Homo sapiens: one gene and its partners. The protein of the gene in region 2 interacts with the protein of the main gene of each other region in a pairwise test. Each region holds a gene or a part of one and is shown on either strand. Other genes may lie near its edges.

Region 1 (7,047 bases), on a different chromosome or scaffold from region 2:
CAAGGGTTCTGATCTAAGAGACTTTGGTTTGGAGAGAAAACAGCCAAGAGCCATGAACCTTGAGTGGCACCATCCATTTCAGTCTCCCCTGTCTTCACCCCACCTCTCTGGCCTGGGTACTGAGGACAGGCTCGAGGTCTGAATTCAATACCCATCGCTCCACAAAATGTGGGGGAAATCCCGAGGTTCCCTAAACATGGGCCTAATTCAAGCATTAGGAGATAAGCTCCATCTCTCACAATGGTTTCAAGAAAAGGGATGCCAAGTCCATAGGATTGCCATGGCGTCTCAACTTCCAGTAAGGAAGTTTCTGATGCTTCATTCCAATCTCTCCTGCTGCCTTTCTGCCCGCTGCCTGAACTCAGGTGGTCCTTGACTCTCAAGAGAACTGGAGTGAATGGCTCTCCCTACCAGTGGGCCCTGTAGGACATGGCTAAGCAAGGGATGTGCAGGCCTCTCTCAGGGGTGTGCCCTCTGTCAAGGAAGCAGAAATCATGGCCTATGTCCTACCACAGCGGGGACAGAGCACTGGCTGTCTGATGACTCGCCTCTCAGCAGCCCTCGGAGGACAGGTGTTCCCTCCCAAACTGCCCAAGTAAGCTGGGTGACTCTGACCAAGTTATCTGAGCCTCAGTGTCCCACCCTGAACAGGAGGAGGACCCTGAGGTCCTGGGCAGTCTTTTGTTGGAAGGAAGTCTCCTTCCTCACGGTCCATCAGGACCCCGTCCTGGCATGCCCAGCCTCTGGCGCTGCAGTACCTGGAGTGGACGCCATCCACAAACGGCCCCCCTCGGCCCTTCAGCTGGTCCACCTCTTGGCGCAGCTTCTCAATCTCTTCAGACAGGCGGCCCTGTGCCAGCAGACCCGGGGTGGGGGCGGGAGTGGGGGCCAGGGAGGGGCAGAGAGGGAGGGTGGGAGTCAGAGAGGGACAAAGAGGACAGCAGAGTTGGGGAGAAGCTGAAGAATGTACTGCAAAGTCCAAAGCCAGGGGCCCCAGGCCAGGCCCACAGATGACACCAAAAGAGAAGAGGTCCAACCAGAGAGTGAGTGGAAGGATGGGCAGGGGCAGGGCCAGGAGGGGGTCTGTCTGGGGAGGGCTCTGCTAGCCTAGGCCTGCCGACCCCTCACTACTGCACAGATGCACAGCAGATGAGGCTGGGCAGCAGAGGGCCCCAGCACCCCCTCAGACCTCACAGACATTGCCGAGGCCAGGACGGAGGCAAATCCTCCCAGAATCACCAGGCTCTGGCTGCACCAGGGTTTGAAGCTCCCTCCAAATCCTGGGGTGGAGCCCCTCACTGGGCCCTGCCTCTCTGCTGTCCACCTCTGCCCTATGCTTCTGGCCTCAGTTTCTTCTTTCCCTGTGGGCAGTAATGCACCTACCATGATGGGCTCTAGTGAGAAATCACGGAATAATGTATGTAGTGCACTAACATATGCACTAACACTGCCAGGTATCAGAGCAGCAGCGTTAAAAGCAGGGTGTCCTTTCCTCCCTGCAACCCGGCCCTCCCAGGCTGGGCGGGGCTGGCCGCAGCCGGGTACCTTGTGGTGGTGCTGCTCCTCAATCTGCCGCTGGGAGCTCTCCAACTCCTGGATCAACGTGTTCTGGGGGAGAGCAGCTGTGAGCCAGGCCCCTGCCTTCCTCTCCCATTCCAGACCTGAGCCTCTGGGTGTGCAGTCTCAGCCCCACCTCTCCAGGCTGGCCACCCACCCCATTGAGACCCCGCCTGCGCCCATCACAGTCCCGCCTCCCCCCGCCCCACACCCAGCACTAACCTCTCGCATCCCAACCCCGCCCCTCTGGGCACCTTCTCCTCCAGGGCAGCCATGCGCTCCTTCAGGTGGAGCTGCAGACGCTCGTTGGACTCGCTGAGCAGCCGGTCCACTGTGTCCGACAGCCGCTTGTTGTGGTCCTCATTCATCTTTTCCCGCTGGCGCACCTGCACAGCCGTCTGCCTCGCACCAGGCCGCCCTCCCAGGGAGGACCACCCTCTCCTGCTGGGGTTTGACTCCCTCCCCTGTCCTCTTCTCATCCTCTGGGAGCCACTCTCTCCAGTCTCCTGACCACCTCCCCCTTCACCTGCCAGCCTCCTCCCACTCTCTGTGGCTGTGTCCCTGGCCAGGCCCTTCCTCCGTGCCCCTTCCACAGACCGCCCTGGGAGCCTGTCCTGCGGGAAGGAGGGGGCCTGAGGGCCCGGCCTGGTGCCCTCACCCGTGCCAGCTCCTGGTTCTTCTCCTCCAGCTGTCCCTCCAGCTGCCGCAGGTGCTCCTCAATGTTGCCATGCCGTTCTTCAGCCTAGGGGCAGGGATGGGTCGGTGCAGCCCGCAGATCTCTGTTCTTCCTGCTCAGGCCCCGCATCCCCTGCACCCTGGTGCCAGGGTGGCCCTGGGGATCATGGCCCCCAGTACCAGTGACGCTCAGCCTCCACTTATCATCTTGGAGCAGGACCACCATCCCCATTGCCTTTCTTCCCAGGTACTTCAATACCTGCCAGGTCTCCCCTGCCTCCTCCTCGCTCAGGCCTAGCCTTAAAACATCCTGAAGCTAGCAGTTCAAGAGACTGTAAATAATCCCCATGCTTCCAGAAAAAGCTCCACTTGAAAGCATGAGCTACCATAAACCTCTACGCCTCCAGATGGATAGAACCACACTGAAGAGCATGGGCTCATGCCACACCGCCTGGGTTCAAATCCTGGCTCCCTCTTACCACCTGTGTGACCTTAGACAAGTTACCAAACCTCTATGTGCCTTCGTTTCCACAACTGTAAAATGTGGGTAATAATAGCACCCAGGCCCACTGGACCATCACAAAGACTAAATGAAATAATCCAAGGCGAACACTGAGAACATAGTAAGCACTCAACAAATGTTAGCCCCGCATGGTTACGGCTCTGCTGTTAAACCAGCCCAGGTGGGGTAGTCTCCCTTTCCAGTCATGGATGTCCAGAGATGGAGACCCTACTGTCTCTGCTGGCAAGATATTCTAGAAAGCCACATCTCTTATAGTCAGGAAATCCTTCCTTAAACTCCTCCTGCGATGACTCACTTGACTGTATTAATCATTTCAGCCCGTGCCTTCATGTCAGCTTTGGGAGACACTAAGGCTGACTGCTCAGCAGCCCACACATAACATCCTCTGCTGTGATTTCAACCCAATCCTTCATTCCTCGAGGCTGGAAAGACCTCCGAGACCATCCCGTCTAACTCCAACATAGTGATAAGGACACTGAGGCCCAGTTAAGGGAGGGGATGACTTTTCCCAGGTCGCAGAGACAGTCAGTGGCAGAAGCAGTCTTGGTCCTGGGTCTGCTGGGACACAGCCAGGCTGCAGGTTCCGTCCTCGAAGCAGCTGAGCTGCACACTGGCCGGCCAGCCTCTCCCTTCCGAGCACTGTGCCTGGTGCTTCCTAAACACCGGTTTTCTTCTCGCCACGGGTTCGAAGATCCCATATGAGGCTGACCAGCTGAAAACGCTCCTAAATTATTTTGATTAACCCCTGCATGTCTAAATCCAGGCATTTACCTGGCTCTTCCAGAACCTATTATGTTTTCAGCCAGCACACCTCTCAGGAATTACTACTTCATAAAGTATCCATTAAATAAAATTGTATTCTTTTTTCTTCATCCTAAAACTGCAGCCTTCAAACAACCAGGAGCAGTCCCTAGATCTAGAAGCTTCAATTTGGCAATCAAAGATGTACTCAACCTAACTCTCACCCCTTTGCCCTTCAGGGATATATATACCATTTCTCTTCTAAGGTTTCACCTTTCCAGAGATGAAAGTCCTAATCTTTCTGCTCCAGCCCCAAGTGAAAGAAAGTGTTCACCACGACGGTGTAGAGGATTAAAAAAAAAAAAAAAGAAAAAGAAAAACACTTTGCATCAACATAGCTTCTTCTCCTTCAAGTACTTTTACACCCCTTCTTATGAGACTGTCACATCCCTGCAGGGTGATGAGGACAGGGATTACTCTTCCAACTGACAGGCACAAGGCAGTGTGCTCCCTGGAATCACACGGCGGGAAGCAGTTTTCTGGCTCCTGGCCCAGTGCGCCTCCCACGCGCTCCCTTCCCTGCCTGGCTCCCTGAGAGCTCAGAACATGGGGGACAGAGGCAGATCCCAGGCCCCTGGCCCACTTGCCTTGGTGAGGGCTGCAATTCTCTGGGCCAGCTCAGCCTCCACCTCTGGCAGCGTCTCTGCCTTGCGCATCGTCTGCTGCAGCTTCTGCTCTGCCACCTCCAGCAGCTCCTGCAGGTGTCGGGCCTTCTCCTCACACTAGCAATGTGGGGGTGGTGAAGTGATTCAAAAGGGAGCACTGAAGCCCCCACCCCCACCCCAGCCTCAGCAGAGAGCAGATGACAGGTCAGAAGCAGCAAGGGACAATCTTGGTTGTTGGCTGCCCGAGACGCCTGACTTCCCCTTTCAAAGGGTGACCTGCAGGACCCCAGGGGCTCCTCAGCCATCACCAGTAGGTTCACGAGGACACCTCCAGGGCTAAGTACAATGCCCATCCCCACCCCACCCTGAGGAGGTACCTGGCGGTGCAGGGACTCCTTGTTGGCCAGCTCATTCTCCAGCTTGTCATTGAGGTCATGGATGGATGTTGCCTCACGCTGAGCAGCCAGGTAGCGCTTCTCCAGTGTAGTAATCCGCTCTTCCATGTCCTCCTTCTGGGCCAGAGCCTGGGAGAAGAGGGGACAAGAAGGACGGTAACCAGCCTTTCCTTGCCCCCATCCTGTCTACACCTCCCCACCCACACCTGGCTGATTGGAACCCATTAAGGGGCATGAGCTACACTCTCCTGTCAGTTTCTGGCTTTGGCCCACCCCTTCCATGACCGCCCCCCAACAATGGAGCCAGGCAAGGAGGCAGGTGTTCAGTCTCACGCCCCAGAGCCTTTGCCTGGCTCTCCCTCCACACGCTCCACAATGAGGTCACAGAGCAGGCCTGCGCCCTCACGCACCTCCCGGAGGTCCCGCTGATGCTTGCTGCTCAGCTCCTCCGACTTGATGAGGTCCCGGCGGGCCGTGCCCAGGTCCTCCTCGAGTTCAGTCACGGTTGTTGTTAGGGTGACCAGTCGCTCCCGGGCCTGGCTCAACTCAAAGTTCTGCTTCTCCAGGAGCTCCTGCAGCTCCTCTACCCGGCCCGTATCCTCCTCCAGGGATAGGGACAGTAGCTCTGTGAGTCACAGCAGCATCCCACCCACCCCACTCCCCTATCCCAGGGGTGGAAGGAGGAACAGCACACCCAGAGCAGGTCAAGGCTCTGCCCCCAACATCACAGCACTCCTCTGGCTACAACTGCCTCCCTCTGGGCCCCAGGAGGTCACTCCTGACAATGACCAAACACCTTGCTATCCTTTGTCTCTCTTGAAAACAAGTTTCTAGTTTTATCTGCTATGCCAGCCTCTTGTAACCCAGAAAGGGGCGTGACTGGGGGAACAAAGGTTCAGACAGAGAAGGAATCTTGCCTGATGCTGCCACATGAGGCAGATGGTGCCTAACAATTCAAGCAGACAAGCGTATGATGTGCCCAGCATGTGTTGGGCACTAAAATAAAAATCTACAGATTTCATTGCAGATGGGGTAGGGAGAAGAAGAAAAGAGAAGGGGGAATATCAGAGAAAGCCTCAAATTTAATTCAAGCAGTTAGTCTACTGAACTAAGGCAGAGCCGGGCCTCCAACCTCCCACCTTGGGGAACACATGACCCCTGCTACACAGCTCTCCATGACCTACCTTCCACAGGCGTTTCGGCCCCAGCTCCACAGTCCCCTCCTCTTCTGCCGCTCCATCCCGCACCCCTGCCCCCTGCTGCAGGGCAGACACCTGTAGGGCACAAGCCCCAGGGCAATGAGTCAAAGAGAAGAGAACCTCCCATACATTCCAGACCCTTCCAAAGCCCCTGTCTTAGTTAAAAAATGTCTCCTAGAAAGAGGTGCTCAGCCTAGCCTTGCCTAGCAGCTTCCAGCCATGGCAGGGAGAAATCTGACAAGAAACAGAGTAGGGCACAGGGGTGAACCAGCCTGGACTTCCAGGAGCTGCAGACTGAGGGTGAGCAGGCAGATTACCTGCTGGTGGGCACCTGCCAGCTGCTCCTCCAAGGTGGTGACTCGCTCCAGCGCTGCCCGGAGCCGCTCTCGCACCTGCTCGAGGTAAGGGGAGATGGAGGAAGAAAGGGGGACCCCACTTGAGTCAGGCTGGAAGAGACTGGGCTTGGTCTACCACCACTGAGCATGAGGACAGTGAAGGGCCTACTAAGCAGCACATTTGCAGGAGGGAGCCTAACAGGAGGACCTTGAAGTTAAGACAATGTTTGGAGGGAGCCAGTGCTCCCTAAATACCGGATGTGGAAATCTCAGAGAAGGGATACATGGGAGGCTCCAGGGCAGCCTGGCTGGATGTGGGGGCTGGCGGGCAGGTGGGCACCTTCTCATCCAGGGCCTTGTGGTGCTCAAACAGTGACTTGAGGGCCTTCAGCACCTCCACCTCACTGGAGACCCCCGAAGGTGACTGGGCCTGGCGCTTCACCACAGTCATCCGCAGTGACCGTTCATGGCGGGACACCAGGCACTCCAGATGTTCCAGAAGCAGCTGGCAGGGAGAGCAGGGGAGGGTGAGAGGGAGGGCTGTAAGCATGTGCCCCAGGGGCTACAAGCAGGGTCCATGTGATCCCCGAGCAGACATGAGTTACAGCCACCCCACTGTGAAAACACTGAAATACTTCCAAATGGGCACAGAGCTCCCGCCCCAACTGATACTACTCAAGGTGACTGCCCCGGCCTCTCCCCAGGACCCTGAGCTTTCTGTGAACCAGCAACTACAGGTGGAGAGCCCAGCACTGGTGGTTAAACGATGTAACTCTCACCCCAGGATGGGAGACAGGAAGAGGGAAGGATGGGGCTTGAGCTAGGACTGTGCCTGGCCCCACTCTTGCCTGCTCTCTTGGTCAAGGTGTTCACAACACACCCCCATACACACACACACACACGTGCGCGCGCGCGACACAAGGTCATCCCCACTTACCCGTGTGTTATTCCGTTCTG
Region 2 (3,433 bases):
TCGTTTTTCTTAAGTCAGAATAGAGGATTTCAAGATGTTTGTTACGTTATTCTGAGTTTTTGTTAGTTTGTTGACAGGATCTCCCTCTGTCACCCAGGCTGGAGTTCGGTGGTGTGACCACAGCTCACTGTAGCGTGGACTTCCCATGCTCAAGTGATTTCCCTCCTGACGAGCTGGGACCTCAGGCACGGCTACACCCAGATAATTTTAAACTCTTTTTTGTAGAGACACGATCTCACTGTTGCCCAGGTTGGTCTTGAACTCCTGGGCTCAAAGCAATCCTCCCACACTGGCCTCCCAAAGTGCTGGGATTATAGGCATGAGCCACCACGCTTGGCCTCTTTGCTCCAGTCTTGGTATTTAGAAAACGGAGGTGAAAACACAATCAAGAGGAGGGGGCATTTATCCACATCTGGACCAGGCAGGAGGGAAGCAAGGTTCCAGCCGCAAGGGGTGTGGAGGGCTGAGATCAGCTGCTGCTCTCCAAAACCAGGGATCTGCGGGACTAGCGAGTAAGACATACGTGGGGTCCGCAGTGAAAACATTTATTTTACAACAGTAATCTTTATTTTAGGCCAACATTCAGACATACAAGACGGAGATCACCATGCGGAACCAGCCTGGCCCTTAGATGTGTGTGCTCGAGCCAGGATCAGCCGGAGTCTGACAGCGCCTGCACCCCAACACGGTCGGATTCCAGGACGCCAGTGACAAAACCAGTGCATGGACAAGCAGCTTCCATGCGTGTGCATTTGATTTTTAAAAACAATACATATTTCAGTGTTAACTTCCCCCCTCACCTGGCTTGAAACATTTTCCCCATTTTCCAGGGAAACAAACTCTACCAAAAGGTGCCGCCTGCAGGACCCCGGGCCCAGCCCCTTCTGGAGGTGGTGCTGTGTGGACTCCTCTGGGGCGGACCCGGGGCCAGCACAGGGCCCCTTCCCAGGCCGCCCTTCAGATGCAGCTTTGCCACTGACCGTATCTGCTGCTCAGAAAATCAGCTTTCATGTTTCAAGGCAGGGAAGGGCTTCCAGTCCCCTCCTCGATTTCACACCGGGACACACACCTGGGTCAGGTGAGCATGACACACAGCCCCCAGGATGGGCACCCCACCCTGCAGAGCAGAGGCCAATGCTGGTGGGGGCCGTGGCAGTGCCCTGGGCACACACCCTCTGCACACAGTGGGCTCAGCGCTTCCTTCTGTGCACCTGCTGGGAAAGCCTCCTGCAGGTCCCTGCCCGACTCCCAAGAAACCAGAGGCCATTTCAGAGCCACCTTTAATTGTACTTGTCACTTCACCAGGGGACAGCAGCATGAATGACACTCCTGCTGCGTGATATATACATATACACATATGTACACACACGGACACACCACAGCCCACACTCACAGCATGTGACGACGCAAACTGTTGCTGGTAAGGACAGTAAAAATGTAGCTTTTGCCAATTCCACAGGAGAATGATTTACAACCAAAATAACAGACACAGGCCAGTCCTGCGCCACAGGGGTTCACAGCTCTGAATACTGGGAAAGGGTGAGATCAGTCATTTCGTGTCCCCTCACGAGATGTCCCCACAGTAGGATGCACTGAGTCAGAGCTAAGGGAGGGTGGACAAGCGCTGAACTCTGCCCGCAGCACCCGGACCCTCCAGTGGCAGCCTGCATGCTGGTGCCCTTCCTTGCAGCACAAGCCTCGCCCGGAACAGAACGCCTGAGAGCAGCCTCGACGGCGTGAGGCTCCAGGGCCTCTTCTGGATGGCAGCAGCCGACGTGAAGACGAAGCTTTTCCTGCTGGGCACGTGTGCATGCCAGTTCCTTTTTCTAGTAGGTCCCCACTGGGTGCTGGCTGCACTAACAACATAGAGAACTAGGAAAGTTCACAAACACTGAGCAGTAATATCTAAAGCAGTTTAAAAATAAAGCCAAAAGGAAGACAAAAAAATCCCACGTCACTGAGTGGAGACAAATCTATACAGCAGCAGCTGCCGTGAAAGGGCCCGCAGGGCCGCTCCTACGCCTCCTGCAGGTCGGAAGCAGTCAGTGCTGCCCGGACCCCCTCGTGAACCGGACGGGCCTCAAAGCACGACCCCAGAGGGCCCCTGGCAGCCCCCAGCAGCGGCGTCCAAAGGGACATTCTGTGCCCATGGCCACACTTGCTCACAGCATTGTCTGCGGCCCGAGAGTGAGGAGTCGGGGTCCCGTCACTGCCACCAGCAAAAGCAGGCAGGGGTGCTGGGGGCGTCCTGATCTGTTAGCACGTGGACAGGGAGGCGCGGAAGCTGCCCCAGGACTCACCACCTCTTTTAATTATAGGGAAACAGTCCACTCAAGAAAGAGAGAAATAAAACCCGGGAGGATCTTTTTCCTTAAATTAAGACAAAGCCTTAAAGCCAACAGGGCAGAGCGCTGAAAACGGTTCTGCTTCTAGGTCAGGCAGGGGGAGGAACTCCAGGCCCCGAGTGTCTGGGCTTCCCGGGGGTCGTCTAATCACAATCACCACCGTGAGAATGGCCACAACCATGATTTATTAGGTTTTACAGATTCTGCAGGGGACTGGGTTCCACAAACCTCCAGACCTGCTCCTCTTTCCCACCCTACCCCACCTTCCGCAGGGAGCTGCATGGTTCTACAAAATGGTCCACTGGACTCTGTAACTGAAAAGCCACCTGGCAAGGGGCCCACTCTGATGGGTACCGAAGGGCCTTGGAGTGTTCTAGCCACAGAGCTGTGTGCAGGCCCAACAGAGGGCCTGGTGGGGCTGAGCTAGGGCCCCCGATGGGCAGCTTTCTACCTTAGGTCCAAGCTTAGAACCTGGCTCTTGGCCAGTCTGCGGAAAAATAACTCACGTCCTAAGCTACATCTACAAAAATTGCAAAGGCTGAGTACAGCCAGCATCTCAGGCTGAACTTGCTGCTGCACGAAGCGGCACGGAGGCACCCCACTGTCTCGCCACCTCACCTTTCAGGATGGGCCAAACAATGAATTTCTTATTCTTTTAGGAGAGGTCTGATTTTGATAAATTATTTCTAATTTAATATCACAGTGCATATCTCTCCTCTTGTCAAAGGTCTTCGTGATCATTTTAGTGAGAAGAAACAAAGAAAAGTGGGACAAACAAAGCTGCCCAGGACCTAGTGCTGGCAGCCGGCTCATGGTCCACATGCGGATCTGCAGTAGGGGTCAGCTGGGGGCCCTCAACCAGCACCCTGTTCCTAAGCACGTCCAGATGTATCCTCATATCCATGTCCCTTTTGGCAGCTTCCTGGTCAACCTGAACCTACCCTTCTGCACAGCCTCGGGTGGCTGCTGAGGGCAATGAGTGAGCTGGGGCCACGGGTCAGCAGGCAGGCAGGGAAGGGGGCTTCAGGAGGCTCATCTGGTTGGTCCGAGCCAGAGCCATCACACACAGCCTCCTCCTCAGCTTTATC
Region 3 (7,075 bases), on a different chromosome or scaffold from region 2:
TGATAGCAGTACCCTGAGCAATGATAAGTCAGAATTTAATCTGTGATAAATACCTTTTTGTGTGTGCGTAAAGAAGAGCTGGGAAATATGTTACTGGTAGGGCTAAGTTAAGAAAACCATAAGTTATTTTCATGTTTAAATGACATCTAAAAGTGACCAAGATTTGAGATGGGTAAGGCCTCCATGAATTTCAACAATGCATTTAAAAAAACAAGCTTTTGTTAAACTTGGTTAAATCATATACTTACAAAGCCACATACAAGAACACTAGCTTGACTTAGCACAGTCTACTCAGCCCAGAACCTGTGAGCTGTGTAGCTACTACCCCCCGGTGGTGGGCAAAGATAAGTTCGAGACAAGACATTTTTAATTTTTTTATTTTAGTTTATTTTTTTTTGATACGGAGTCTCATTCAGTAGCCCAGGCTGGAGTGCAGTGGCATGATCTTGACTCACTGCAACCTCCGTCTCCTGGGTTCAAGCAATTCTCCTGCCTTAGCCTCCCAAGTAGCTGGCATTACAGGCATGCACCACTATGACCAGCTAGTTTTTGTATTTTCAGTAGAGACAGGGTTTCAACATGTTAGCCAGGCTGGTCTTGAACTCCTGACCTCAAGTGATCTGCCTGCCTCAGCCTCCCAAGGTGCTGAGGTTACAGGCGTGAGCCACTGTGCCGGCCCAAGACATTTTTAATTATTTTGATTGGGAAAGAACAAATCATCCCTGTTAAGGCAGGCTGAAATGATCATTCATTTAGCAAATAAACATACAGAGTTCTTACTATAGTCTGAAAACTGTGCTAGATACTGGGAAAACACAAACCTGTTTCTTTCCCTTGGAAAACAGAGATGCCAACAAGCAGTTGAATGCAATGTGCTAAGAACTAAAACAGCTGTACAAATGTTGTGGGAGCATAGAGGAGGCAGTTACCAGTTCTATTTAGAGAAGTTGAGGAAAACTTCTGAGATAAATTGATATTTAGATTAGATCTAAAGGCATCTTACCAAGGAATGAACGGGAAGTGCATTTCAGTCTGGACAAATATGTTCAGCATGAATAAAAATGGCATGTATGGAAAATTATGGCAATGTGATCAGTTAAGCTAGAGAAGACATCGTGGGTGAGAGTGAGGAAGACTGTATTTTTTTCTGTTTCTGTTGAGATGAAGCAAGAGAAGGGAAATTTAAATTTATATAAAGAAAAAACATGGTTAAGTAAGGGTTTTTTTTTTTTTTTTTTTTTAGGTGAAAGGACTTGAATATACTTACATGGTGAGGGAAAGGGGTGAATGGAAAATGAGTTTTAAGATACAGGAAAGAAAGGAGATAACTGATTAACCAGGTCCCTGAGGAGATTGGTCCCTGAGGAGAATCCAGGGCACACACAAGTGGATAGGAGAAAGAATAGATGAAGATGCAGATAGGAGTATGAATAGGGTGTCATTAAGTTGAGAGAGTTCACACAAACTTTATTTTCTTAGGGAAGTAGTAAGATGTTTTACCTGTCAAGAAAGAAAAAGAGAAGACTTAGAGTTGAAGGCCTGAAAGGGCAGCAAAATTTGGAACAACCATTAAAGGGAATGAAAATAAAAACTAGCAATGGCAAATCTGGGTGTTAAGGGCAAAGCTGAGACTCAAACCCATAAACTTTTAGGGACACCAATCTTTATAATTGTGTGATTTGCTTTTGGAGAATGATGGAGGGAGATGGTTGGAATATATAAGACTGGAGTCTTTTGGGTTGGCTGTGATGGAAAGACAAAGAGGAAAGGAAACTTAAGGATGCTGGCAAGAGAACTGTTGAAACAAGGAGATGGGAGGAATAAAGAGAAGGCTAACAATGTGCAGAACATGAAGAAGAACAGGTGAGGTAGAAAAGAGAGGTAAAGATAGTTAGAATTTATGTCAAGAGATTGTATGGCTAGGAAGAGTTAACTATATGGGCTTTGAAATCTCTAAAAGATTTGGGAGAAGAGGAAGAGTATAAACTAGTAAGAAGGTGAACCAGAAGCCAGAATCCTCCAAAAATGATTGCCAGTGATAACACAGAACAGAGAAAAAAAAAGAGGTACAATGTGGTGTAGTCATATGACCTAGGCTTCAGATGAGATCATAGGGTCAGAAATAAGGAACAACAAGTAATAAACCACTTTTCTGTCTTTATTTTTCTTTTAACATGTATTCAGTGACAATAATAGCTATATAAATCTTAAACAACAGAGAAATATATGGAGGAGAAAATAAGTTTCTTTCCCCCACTTAGCCTTATATCCTTTGAAAGCCTTCTCAATGCATTTACATGCATGCATATATAATTTTGGGGTGTTTCGACAAAAGTTGATAATGCTGTATGTTTTTTGCAGTTGGCTTTAAAAAATCTTGGATCTCTTTCAATGGCTAACCCTTTAGTTCAAAACATCTCATAGTAATAGATATACCATTAACCATTTCCCATTGATAGATGGTCATTTTGTTTCCATTTTTTTCACTATTACAAACAATGCTGTAGTATTATTGTACATACTTTTTTGTGCATATAAGGATTTCTCTACAATATTTATTAGTGAAACTGCTAAATTGAAGATTACGTCCAATTAATATTTTGATAAATTCTGTTAATTTCCCTTTTAAAAATGCCGTGCCAATTTACATTCCTGCCAACAGTGTATGAGATTAGACTGTTCCTCACGTCCTCGCCAGGGATAAATGTGGTAATTCTTTTTGAAATTTAAGATATCACTTTCCAAGGTGGAGCAGACAAATTAGAGGCAGGTTTGCTTTTTTTTTTTTTCTCATTAAACTTTTTTAATGGGTCTCAAAATTCTGTGACAAATTTTTGGATGTTTCCATTAAAAAGTACTGATTTAAAAAACTAATAACTTAAAACTGCCACACGCAAAAAAGAAAACCAGTGGTCCACAAAACATTCTCCTTTCCTTCTGAAGAAGAAAACCAGTGGTCCACAAAACATTCTCCTTTCCTTCTGAAGGTTTTACGATGCATTGTTTTCATTAACCAGTCTTTTACTACTGAACTTAAATGGCCAGTTGAAACAAACAGTTCTGAGACCGTTCTTCCACCACTGATTAAGAGTGGGGTGGCAGGTATTAGGGATGATATTCATCTAGCCTTCTGAGCTTTCTGGGCAGACTTGGTGACCTTGCCAGCTCCAGCAGCGGTGAAGACTGCTGCTGTTGTAATGAGGCAGGCTTGAGTTTCTGTCTCAGTTTTGCCACTTGCTATCTGTACTGTCAGGGTGTTGTGGTTAAGTTTACCTTTGGGGCGCAGAAAAAGCATATTTATGGTGAGAGTTCGGTAGCATTTATCATTATAATAGAACTGGGAGCTAATATAGGCCATTAGATAGTTCATTATGCTTCCGATTTTATCAGGAATTGGGTTGATCCCACGTATAGTCTATTTAACAGGATCAAATTTTCCAAAAAGATAATCGGAATACACGCCGAAAGTGTGGCAAAACATTTTAACAGGTGTCGTCCTGAAAAATCGGAGATAAAGAGTGTAAGGCACTAAATCAAGTTGGGTGTTTTCAGCGTTTAGACTCTGGAGAGTTGAAATCCACGGTGTCTATGACCAGATCATACATCATTCTCTGCAGGTACCTCGTCTGGGACTACCGGCTGGAGGTTGCCTCTTTTCTGCCAGGAGACTACAGTTAGGAAGTGACTCCTGTAAGAAAATCCGTCACGATTCAATATGGTCCTCGTCCTCGTAGGACACTCCAGGCACCTGCCTAGAGTAAGATGGCGCTTTTCGTAAGCACCTCTCCAGGACAGAGATTTCCATAACGAGAGTCACGCACTTGCAGGCCATCTTTGCCATTATCCAAGACGGTGAGCCGTGCAGCCTCATCGTTTCCAGGTTTCAATATGGCTCCCCGCGTCACCGAAAAGGTTAATCTCAGAAACTAACTTGAACTCGCGCGGAAGTGACGCAACAGAAGTTGTCGCGCTTTGCATCTCCGCCTCCCGTGCTCCGCCTCCGGTCTTACGTTTCGCCCCCGGCAGCGCCGACAGCGGACCCAAGATGGCGACCGAGTTGGAGTACGAGTCTGTGCTGTGTGTGAAGCCAGACGTCAGCGTCTACCGGATTCCGCCCCGGGCCTCCAACCGCGGTTACAGGTACTAACCCCGAGGCGCTGCCGCACACGCGTACTCTGTCGCAGATGACAGCTTCCTTCTCAGCTAGCACGCTGTCCGTCCCTGCCACTACTACCTCTGTATTGTCACCTTGCTAGCCTCCCTACCTGGGTTGTCATCTCCCTGACCACCTGCTCCATCTCCACTCTGGACTGTCATCACCATATTTCTGCCGTTTTTTTTTTTGTTTTGTTTTTTATTAAATTACCACTCTGCGTTATTCCACTCTGCCTCTCCCGTAATCCCCTGGGGCACCCATCTGCTCCCCATCATGCACTTTCAGTCGTGCTTGCTCCATTGCCAGTCCCCTTTCATTCGCTCTTCCCTGCGTCCTTCAGCTTATCATCCTCATCCTTTCTCTCTCTCTCTCTCTCACACACACACACACACACACACACACACACACACACACACACCTTTCCAGTTCCCCATGCACATTTATGGGTAATCGTGTTGCTTGCCACTCTGGATTATCTGATTTATTTTTTGTACTGTTGTCAATTTCGTCACCAACTGTCATCATCCACCATTCGGTTTTTCCTTCAGCAGTTTTACCAGTGAGCAAAGGTTATGATCATAAGCTTTACAACGGTTGTTCATTCTGTTTCTTCTCATTGTATTTTCTTGATGATTATATAGTATTTTCTGTCTTCCTTCCCTACCTCCCTTCTTAACCTCTCCTACACCTTTTCCCTCCAAAGTTGAGGCAGCATTTTTCTCTGTTGGGCCTAACTACCTACCTTGTAATCCAATGACTGTGAGGTTCTGAGGATGCTATAGGACATTATGTAGTTGAAAGACAGTTCACTGGGCTTCATGTTAAACCATATGAGTGTGAGCCCTTTCCAAGCCTCAATTTTCTCATCTGTAAAATAGAAAAAAAAACCTGTTAGTGATGATACCTGCGCTCTTATAATGTGCTTAACAAGGGTTTTTGGGAGAGTAAAATTAAATCATATAATGGATGTGAAAGAATGTAGGAAATGCAATAAAGCAGTTACAAATACTATTTGTTTGTTCTTTTTTTTTTTTTTTTTTTTTTTTTTGAGATGTAGTCTCACTTTGTTGCCCAGGCCGGAGCGCAATGGCTCAATCTCAGCTCACTGCAACCTCCGCCTCCTGGGTTCAAGCGATTCTCCTGCTTCAGCTTCCTGAATAGTTGGGATTACACGCATGCACCACCACACCTGGCTAATTTTTGTATTTTGAGTAGAGATGGGGTTTCACCAAGTTGGCCAGGCTGGTCTTGAACTCCTGACCTTGTGATCTGCCCACCTTGGCCTCCCATAGTACTGGGATTACAGGCGTGACACCACGCCCAGCCGTCGTTTTTTTTTTTTTTTTTTTTTGTTAGAGAGGCAGGGTCTCGTTCTATCATCCAGGCTGGAGTGCAAGTGGTGCAATCACAGCTCACGGCAGCTGTGTACTCCTGGGCACAAGGGATCCTCCTACCTCAGCCTCCCAAGTTGCTAGGGCTACAGGCATTGCCTCACAATGCCTGGCTAATTTTTAAATTTTTTTGTGTAGACAGGATCTTGATATATTTCCCAGGCTGGTCTCGAACTCCTGGCCTTAAGTGATTCTCCTGCCACAGCCTCCCAAAGTGTTGAAATTACAGGTGTGGGCCACTGCACCTGGCCAAGATACTGTTCTTATTCTTCTCTCTGACCCACATCATCATTGTGATTTTTCCTCCTGGCATTTATCATTACCTTGGCTGAAAAGTTACCCTCTCCTTATGTCTGTTATTTTGCCCCTTACTGGCGTTTTATTCATCATGAATCAATATTTTTATGCTTGCTGACCTGTGCGCTGGGCCCTGTGGGTTGCACCTTTGGCAAAGAGGTAGCAGTTCTGTTTTTAATAAGCTTTTAGTTGGACCCCAAACTGACCCTAAGTAGAAATCAACATGCTTTTAGATGGTAGTTACAGGTACTATATGAGTCACTTAAACATCACCTTCTTTGGGAGGCCCTATGTGACCCTTCCATTCTGGTTTAGATATGCACCCTGTGTGCTTCCATAGCACCTTTTTCTTTTTCTTTTTTACTTTAAGTTCTGGGATACATGTGCAGAATGTGCAGGTTTGTTACATAGGTATGCATGTGCCATGGTGGTTTGCTGCACCTATCAACCTGTCATCCTCGCCCCTCCCCCGAGAGGCCCCAGTGTGTGTTGTTCCCCTCCCTGTGCCCATGCGTTCTCACTGTTCAACTCCCACTTGTGAGTGAGAACATGTGGTGTTTGGTTTTCTGTTCCTGCATAGCACTTTATTCTTATCTCTATTCCAGGGCTCTTCATTTTGTATTGTAATGGATTACAGTGGATTGTACAATGGATTGTTTAGTCTCCTTTTTTCTCCAGGCTAGACTGTGAACAACTTGAGATCTTTTTAACTTTATATTCCCAGGGTCTAGCACAGTATCTGGTACACTTTGGGCACCCTGTAAATGTTGACTGAAAGAAGAAATCAGTAGATTACACAGAGAAACCTAATCACATAAAGTGGCATTGATTGAACTGTTAAATAAGGTCAAATAGCTCATTACTTCCAACTTTAGGAGTTAAGACTCCTAAAGGATATGATACATATTGAAGTGGGATTATATTCTTTTTCTTGAAGTTTTTTTTTTTTTGAGATGGAGTCTGGCTGTGTTGCCCAGGCTGGAGTGCGCTGGCGCAATCTCAGCTCGCCACAACCTCCGCCTCCCCGGTTCAAGTGATTTTCCTGCCTCAGCCTCCCAAGTAGCTGGGACTACAGGCACGTGCCACTATGCCCAGCTAATTTTTGTATATTTAGTAGAGACGGGGTTTCACTGTGTTGGCCAGGCTGGTCTCAAACTCTTGACCTCGTGATCCGCCTGCCTTGGCCTCCCAAAGTGCTGGGATTACAGGCGTGAGCCACCGCACCCGGCCT
Region 4 (7,169 bases), on a different chromosome or scaffold from region 2:
TTTGTTGTTGTTTAAATTTAGCTTCCCAGTATAGCCAAAAGCTCTGGGATAGCTTCACTGGGATATGTATTTAGCAACAGTTTGCTGTGATAACTAAGAATAGTTTGACCAAATGTCAGTGTTATCAATCTGTCCTGGAGTCTCTCTGAGGTTAAGCTCCCGTGTAAAAATGCAAACAGCATGCCCCTCAAAACCACAGCTTTGAGTGGATTCAGGTAAAGCATACAATCAGATCAGAAAAATCTGGCCTTATAATAATCTCTAAAGTAACTGAAGTTTCTGTTTAGAAGAACTGTGTCTCTGTGGGATTTCTTTCTCCATGCTAGCTCTGGACTTAAGCAACTATTTAAAGGACAGACCTCTAGAGACTTTGATAAATGTCTCTAGACATCTCCCCCACCCCTTTCGACCTAACACTTAAAGTCACAGTTTTCATTGTCAAAGGAATGGAATATTTTTGGCTGGTGCTGTTATTACTGGGATAGATTTTGGAGGTTGAAGTTCCTATGCTGTAAAGGCACAATTACAATAGGAATTCCAAACTGAAATGTGAACTATTAGGCCCCGTGGACTCAACATCCAGCCTTAAAATAATATCCCAAAAACTTTTACTTCTCTGAGGATACTTTTGCTCTACTGCAGTCAAAAATACGAATTGAAAAAACAAGGGGCCACAGATAAAGATGGAGAGTCTTGTGTGTAACCCACCTCCTGTCTCTCACCCTGGAAATCAGTTTTATCTTTTAATGAAACTGATATCCAAGCTCGTGATGGCTGAAATAAATCATCAGTGCTGGGTGGTGTGTGTACACATGTAAGCAAAACAAACAGAGAAATCTGTGCTAACTCAAGGTAAGGGTGGATAAATACGGAAAACCTAATGCTACTACAGCAACATGTAATTTGTTCTTAAATGGCAGCAACTGAAAGATTCACTATTTTCAGACACTAGTCTCACAGTCTTGATGGGGTTAGGACTGGCCTCACACTGCCTCTGTGTGGGGCTTGACTGGCTTTTTTGATAGCTCAAGTGCTGCAAATTTATTTAAAAGAGAACAGAACGCTGACTTTCTTCACTAACTCACTCCAGCTGGGTTCCTGCCTGCTTTTCTTCTGTCCCCACCCCCCGCCACTGCCCCTCATCTTGCAGTACCCCTCATCCCTTTCTCCAGCTAAAGAACAGCTGATAGAAATAGGCGCCTTTTTTTTTTTTTTTTTAACATCAAAGGCAGCCCAGAGCTATGTCAGCCTTGCCCCAGCCTCAGACAGAAAAAGCTTTTGATGCCTCAGATTGCGAAGCTTTTTGCAGCTGTACTTTATCAAGGCAGCAGTGGCAGGGCTTGGAGGACCCAGGCGAGCCAGAAGGTGGCGGCGAAGTCACCTTGGGAAGAGGAGAATAGGGTCAAAGACAGGACGGCGGAGGGGCTGACCCGGACGGAAGGACCAGAGGGCGTGCCCCTGCTCTGGGGTCAGTGAGGAAGGGTCAGGGGGACTGGTGAGAACTCCAGCCATAAGGAAGCAGTGCCCGAGGACACTTTGGCGACGCTAGTCGGTGATCAGCTGACCCGGGCAGGGAGAGGAGGGTGCCCTTCGCAGAGTCACGGGAAGCTTCGCCTTCTGGGCTTGCTTTCTCCCGCCTGCCCCTGCGGTTGCTCTCTGCCCCAGCGAGCGGAGCGCTGCTCCAAGACGCTCTTCTCCCTCCACCTCGGCGCCCCCACCTGCCGTTGCCCCCGCCCGCCGAACGCACGCCCAGGAGGGCGGGCCCGGAGTTGAGCGCAGCCGCCCGCCGCTGGAGAGCGCTGGGAGCCCTGCAAGCGAGCAAGGCCTCTCTGGGCGCCGCGGGCAGCAAATCACTCCCCGAGCCTCTCGGTCCACAAAGCGGGACCTGCCTGCCTCGCTCACCAACGCTCCCGGGCTGGGGGGGCTCGAGCAAGCGGCGCTGCGCTCCGCGGCCCTCGCCGGTCCCAGTCAGCTCCAGGAGCGCTCCAGGCTGGGTTGGGCTGGGCCTGGGCGAGCCCGGCCGCTGGGAGGGGGCCTCGTAGCCCTTTCCCCAGGGCGCGGTCTCCACCTCTCCTGCTCCTCCTCGCCAGCTGCGCCGCCAGCTCCCATTGTTCACCCCGCCCGCCTGGCGACGTCCGGGTGCTGCTCCCTGGGCCTCCCAGGCGCACCTACCTTCTGCTGCCGGCGAGCCATGTCGGTGGGCTGCTTGGCATTAAAGGGGTAGGCGATGCAGCGCATCACGAACACATACAGCTGCAGCCTCTTCTTCCTCTCCTCCTCCTCTTTCTGCAGCCGCTCCAACTCTTCCTTCTCCTTCTCGCTCACCACCGACGGGCTGGGGCTGGAGGGCCGGCCGCCGCCAGCGCGGCTGCTGGGTTGCAGCCCCCCGGCCCCGCCGCCGCTGCTCGCGCCGCTGCCCCCGCCGCCGCCTGCACCCACCCCGGCTCCGGCGCCGGCGCCGCCGCCCCCCAGCCCGGCGCTGCCGGCCGAGCCCTCGCTGGTACGGCTGGGAGACAGGCGCGCGCCGGACGGGGCCGAGCCGAGCACCTCCTTGCCGCTCTCCTCCTCCACGATCTCATCCGATTCTTCTTCGCTGGACGAAGGGTCCAGCATAGTGGCGCCTGGGGAGCGGGGTCTCTGGAGCCCCCGGCTTGGAGTGCAAAAGGTGGGGGGCGCTGGAGGCAGCCGGGGATCAGCTCTCCCGGGTGGGCGCTTCTCCCCAGGTCAGGGAGCGAGAGCGCTGCTGCTCAGCCTCGGCCGCCGCGACTGATCCTCTGCCCGGCGGTCGCGAGCTGGGCTCAGACCCAGAAGCGCGAAGGGAGGAGGGGAAGGGAGAGGTGCGTCCGTGGACTCGAGGTGGGCAAGGGGGAGAATCAATTGCGAGCCCCGAGCCCGCAGCCGGATGCCATCTGCGGCTGCTGAAGGAGGCGCCTCCAGAAAAGATGCCGAGTGTTGCAAGCTGTCGATGCAGCCAAGAGCCGAAGAGGCATCTTGCCGATTGGGGAGGGAGCGGCGCTTACGTGTTTATTGGCTTAACTCTCCCGTGTCCGCGGCGTAAAGGGCTGCTGCAGAGGGCTGGAGGGGGGAGAGCGCGGAGCGTCCTCAGAGCCTCAGTACTTCTGACCCCAATACCTTGCCACCCTCCTCCCCTGCCGGCTTCGTGGATAATTTTTTTGTTGATATCTGGCTCTCATTGCCTCAACCCCTTTTCCCCTCCCGCGGACAAAAAGTTCTTGGGGGAGGGAGAAATCCAGAAACCAGCCGAGCGGGCTGTTTGGAGACGCTAAATCGAGAGGTCTTACTTAGGAGGAGGAAGTCCGTGAGATCTTATACGGGAAAGAAAGGGTCCATCTCCTTTCCCCAGGCTTCTTTACACCTGGGGCGTGGGGGGCGTGGGGGCTGGGCAGCGTGTTTGTCCCACCTGTGTAAACTCTGATTCCAGCAACTTATTCCGCATGCGCCCAGTCTAATTAAAATAAAAGTGAATCAAATTTTGAATGGATTGGTGTTTCGACCAGGCAACTCAACCATTTATGTAGCGCCCCCGACCTTGCCTACCCCCACCCCCAAAATCTATGATGAATCTTCTTCAGTTCCCAAGACCTGGGAATGCTTTCTGCTGAGGTGAGCCTACCAGAAAAATAGAAGGGTTTCTGGTTGCTTAACCCTCCCTCCATTCTGGCTCGGTGGAGGCTTGGGGACCCCGCGATCAGACAAAGACACCCTAAGAACTCAGCGGCGTCAACATCTAATGCGTCGACTGTCGCACTCTGTTCACCCCTGCCTCTCGGGTAAACTATTAATACAAAGCAGCAGATGGTGCCTGCCTTCCCCGTGCTCCTTTCACTTAGGCCAGTAAACCTGGTAAACGAGGGAGCTGGCCAACGTGCTGAATGTAACCTGCGACCCGCACGCAGATGGATGAAAACAAACCACCAGCCAGCCACCTTCAGAACTTAGGCTATCTAGAGACCTCTCCACTTCATCGCCTATATTTATGTATTTTCTAGTTCTCTAATTATCTGTAGATACTCGTGGGAGTGATTTTAATAGTGTAGCATGAGTTTAAAGTTTAAATCACTTTTGTCTTTACGTATTTTATAATTTACCATGAGTTTTACTAGCTTTGATAGTAAAGTGACCTGTTTGAGACCTGCAGATGAACTCAGAACAACTGGTTTCACATTAACCTCAACAATTCTGTTTGATCTTTTGAGTTAAGTACTTGGATGGCTTATATTTGACTTCACCACCATACCTCAAGGACACAACTTTTGTGGCCATCACACATTTGGTAACAACACAAAATTTAAAAAAAATTGAGCAGTGCGGGGATTGTGACAGTTTTGCAGCCTCACTTTTTAATTCTTCTCAAGAAGTAAAGGATGTTCAAATCATGTGGTATTGGTTTTCCTGGAACAGAAAATATAGTAAGCCAATCAATTGATCAACAACCTTTATCCAGCACCTTTTAATGAAGTAACACATTGTTCTAGGTGCTTGGGATAGATAGAATTTTTAGAAGGCATTCTCTTAAAGAGTCTATAATCTCCTTTGGGAGCTACAACATAAACATGTGAAAAAGATTGACAGCACTTATTCTGAGGCAACATATCAACAAATCCAGGTCAGTAAACTGCAAAAAGCTTGCGTGAATGAAGCAACTTGAAGTGAAGGGAATCATATATTTCTCAAAGAAGAGAATAAAATCTTAAGGGAACATACCATATACATGGGTGGTGAAAAGAGAAGGTATTGCAAGTGGAATAAGTGGTTTGCAATGCCAGAGTAATAGGGCAAGGGATCAAGTAAGGTTAAAGAGTGTTATGGAAACAGGGTATGGGTAGGTGACAGGAGGAGGAAAGAGCTGAAATTATAATCCATTTGGCGAAATAAAGGGACCATGTTTAGGACACAAATTAAGGAGTATGTGATGATTTGGGGAGGAGATGCTGTTGAAGGCCAGAAACAGGTCATTCACAGATTAAATATTTCTTCTAAGGTCTCTTTAGGCATTTAAATACTGTCACATCAGACATTGGTGGCAAAGTGGCCATGAATTCCATCTACAAAAACACTTGGAATTTCACAATTGCTGTAATAAAGTTTTGTTTCATATTTTTACAAACTCCTTTGGGATTATGTGGGTTTTTTCCAGGTATAGTCATTAATATAGAAACTTAATATCCACCTTTTGTAAATTACATAAACCTATGATTTGGGTGTTAAACATAACATTGCTTACATAAATCTAACAATCTTCTCAATCCCCCCCAAGAGTATTCAATCAAAGAGGCTTACATAGATTTTACCAAAAATATTTCCATATTTTTTTCAAATGGTGAACATTGCTGTCTTTCAAAATATACACCCTTTCGAAGACATCTCTTACCTTAGCCGAAAGTCAACTTGGAGATATTCTAAATATTTGTTAGTATTGAAGATAAGATATGCCAACCAGAACTTATGAGGCATCTGAAGTAGGGATTGTGACTTCCCTAAATGTACATTTTGATAAACAGGGGAAAAGATGACCACAGAACACATGCAAAGTCTCTTAACTTTTGTCTACCTCTTGTAAATATTTGTGTTCTTATTTTTAAAAGTAGAATTCCACCATAGATTCTTATACACCTAAGAATTTATGTCCTTAAGCTATTTTATGTGCTTGCATGTTTGCCCCACATCCAGTTCTGCTCTGTAGAAAACTTGGATAACCTCAAGATGATGGAATACATTTTAATCAACTATCTGGAGACCATATCATGAAAGTAGAAGCTATACCGTTGAATTTTGTAATCCTACCCCCAAAAGCAAAGTCTGCAGAAAATGGAAATGACTGAGACACTAAGCCAGGATTTCCTAATCTAAACCTAGATGATCTCCATCCTTCTATGAAGTGTTTGCCTCGATGTGTCAAAGGCCACAAGTATGAGGAAATATCTGACTCGCTGGCAATTGATAGTTTAGTAAAAACAAACCTCTTCTTTATGTCACACATAAAACACATTTCCATCAAATATAACTAAGTTTAATGCCCACTTTGATGCTTTTGTGGGTTTGTTACTAAAAAATAATTTAGCTAAGTTAAATATTTAAAAAATCTCAATAAACTTCATATTATCTAGATGTGATCATCTCATCTAATCAATATTTAATTTTGTTTAAATTATAAGACTAGCTTGCAAGCTCCAAAAATGGGTTAATTTGATCTTACAGTGTGCCTTAGGTCAAGTTAAATGCTTGGCCTCTCAACCCAGACAGTTCTGCCTCTACCACTTAATAGTAGAGCTATCCTGAACGAACTAATGATTCACATTCAGTATCCTCATCTGTAAAATGGGGGATAATAGTACTCACTTCCCCTGGAATGACAACAAAAATAGATGATATATAAAAAGCAATTTTCAACCAATTTTAGCTTTACATTTTTTTTCCAGTGATCTGAGAGGGATGTGCCATAAATGAGATGACAAGAAATTGGACACAAATAATTAGAAGGAAACGAACATAAAAGAAATCAAATAATTCAGAACTAGATCCTGAAAAATAGAAGAGTTGCTTATTTGTTTACTTGATGCCTGTCTGGTTTTAGATAGTATTGTCAGGGATTAGAAATGGTCTATTTTGTTTGAGAAACCTACTTTTCATCATTACTCTTTATATCATATGATGATTCTTACTAAAGTAAAATGAAGCAGGTTAGGATGAAATTAAAGGATCATCATAAGGCTAAAAATAATAAAAATCGAGCCACACCAAAGTATCTTTCACTCTAGGCAACAAAACATGTTTTGGAATGATAAATAATATTACTTGCAAGAATTGGTCTTGGAAAATCACTCTCATTACTTAAGAAGATGAAAAAGAAAAGTGGGACAACACATTTTACAATAAATATTTAAGTCAAATTCTGAAAGCCAACTATTCACAAGAGTAATCATGTTTCTTGTGTACACAATTTCTTTTAATAGAAGTGAGAACTAGATGTGGTATGGATTGAAATGCAGTTTATACTGGTATTTACATGGACAAGATGGAGGGTTTTGTCATTTTGCATTGACTCTGAAATACAGTGACATACCATCAAATAAAAGGGAAAAAAAGTACCCAAGTGGCTGTTTCCACATCATAAAATATTACGTAGATAATCTGCCTAAGTAGCCTAA

Evidence for each region.
Region 1: the proteins of DNAJC5 (region 2) and PPFIA4 come close enough for resonance energy transfer, tested with the Homo sapiens proteins (one study listed by BioGRID).
Region 3: the proteins of DNAJC5 (region 2) and NECAP1 come close enough for resonance energy transfer, tested with the Homo sapiens proteins (one study listed by BioGRID).
Region 4: the proteins of DNAJC5 (region 2) and CADPS come close enough for resonance energy transfer, tested with the Homo sapiens proteins (one study listed by BioGRID).

What each region holds. Positions count from the first base shown.
Region 1 is NC_000001.11:203,043,479-203,050,525, reverse strand, and holds part of PPFIA4 (liprin-alpha-4), read right to left. Parts: coding exon 7,028-7,047; intron 6,596-7,027; coding exon 6,431-6,595; intron 6,148-6,430; coding exon 6,073-6,147; intron 5,831-6,072; coding exon 5,741-5,830; intron 5,159-5,740; coding exon 4,967-5,158; intron 4,686-4,966; coding exon 4,539-4,685; intron 4,279-4,538; coding exon 4,144-4,278; intron 2,300-4,143; coding exon 2,216-2,299; intron 1,944-2,215; coding exon 1,812-1,943; intron 1,609-1,811; coding exon 1,546-1,608; intron 851-1,545; coding exon 759-850; intron 1-758. UniProt on the Homo sapiens protein: May regulate the disassembly of focal adhesions. May localize receptor-like tyrosine phosphatases type 2A at specific sites on the plasma membrane, possibly regulating their interaction with the extracellular environment and their association with substrates.
Region 2 is NC_000020.11:63,933,123-63,936,555, reverse strand, and holds the end of DNAJC5 (dnaJ homolog subfamily C member 5), read right to left. Parts: 3' UTR 545-3,433; downstream 1-544. UniProt on the Homo sapiens protein: Acts as a general chaperone in regulated exocytosis. Acts as a co-chaperone for the SNARE protein SNAP-25. Involved in the calcium-mediated control of a late stage of exocytosis. May have an important role in presynaptic function.
Region 3 is NC_000012.12:8,078,244-8,085,318, forward strand, and holds the start of NECAP1 (adaptin ear-binding coat-associated protein 1), read left to right. Parts: upstream 1-4,030; 5' UTR 4,031-4,045; coding exon 4,046-4,140; intron 4,141-7,075. UniProt on the Homo sapiens protein: Involved in endocytosis.
Region 4 is NC_000003.12:62,872,417-62,879,585, forward strand, and holds the start of CADPS (calcium-dependent secretion activator 1), read right to left. Parts: upstream 3,001-7,169; 5' UTR 2,614-3,000; coding exon 2,173-2,613; intron 1-2,172.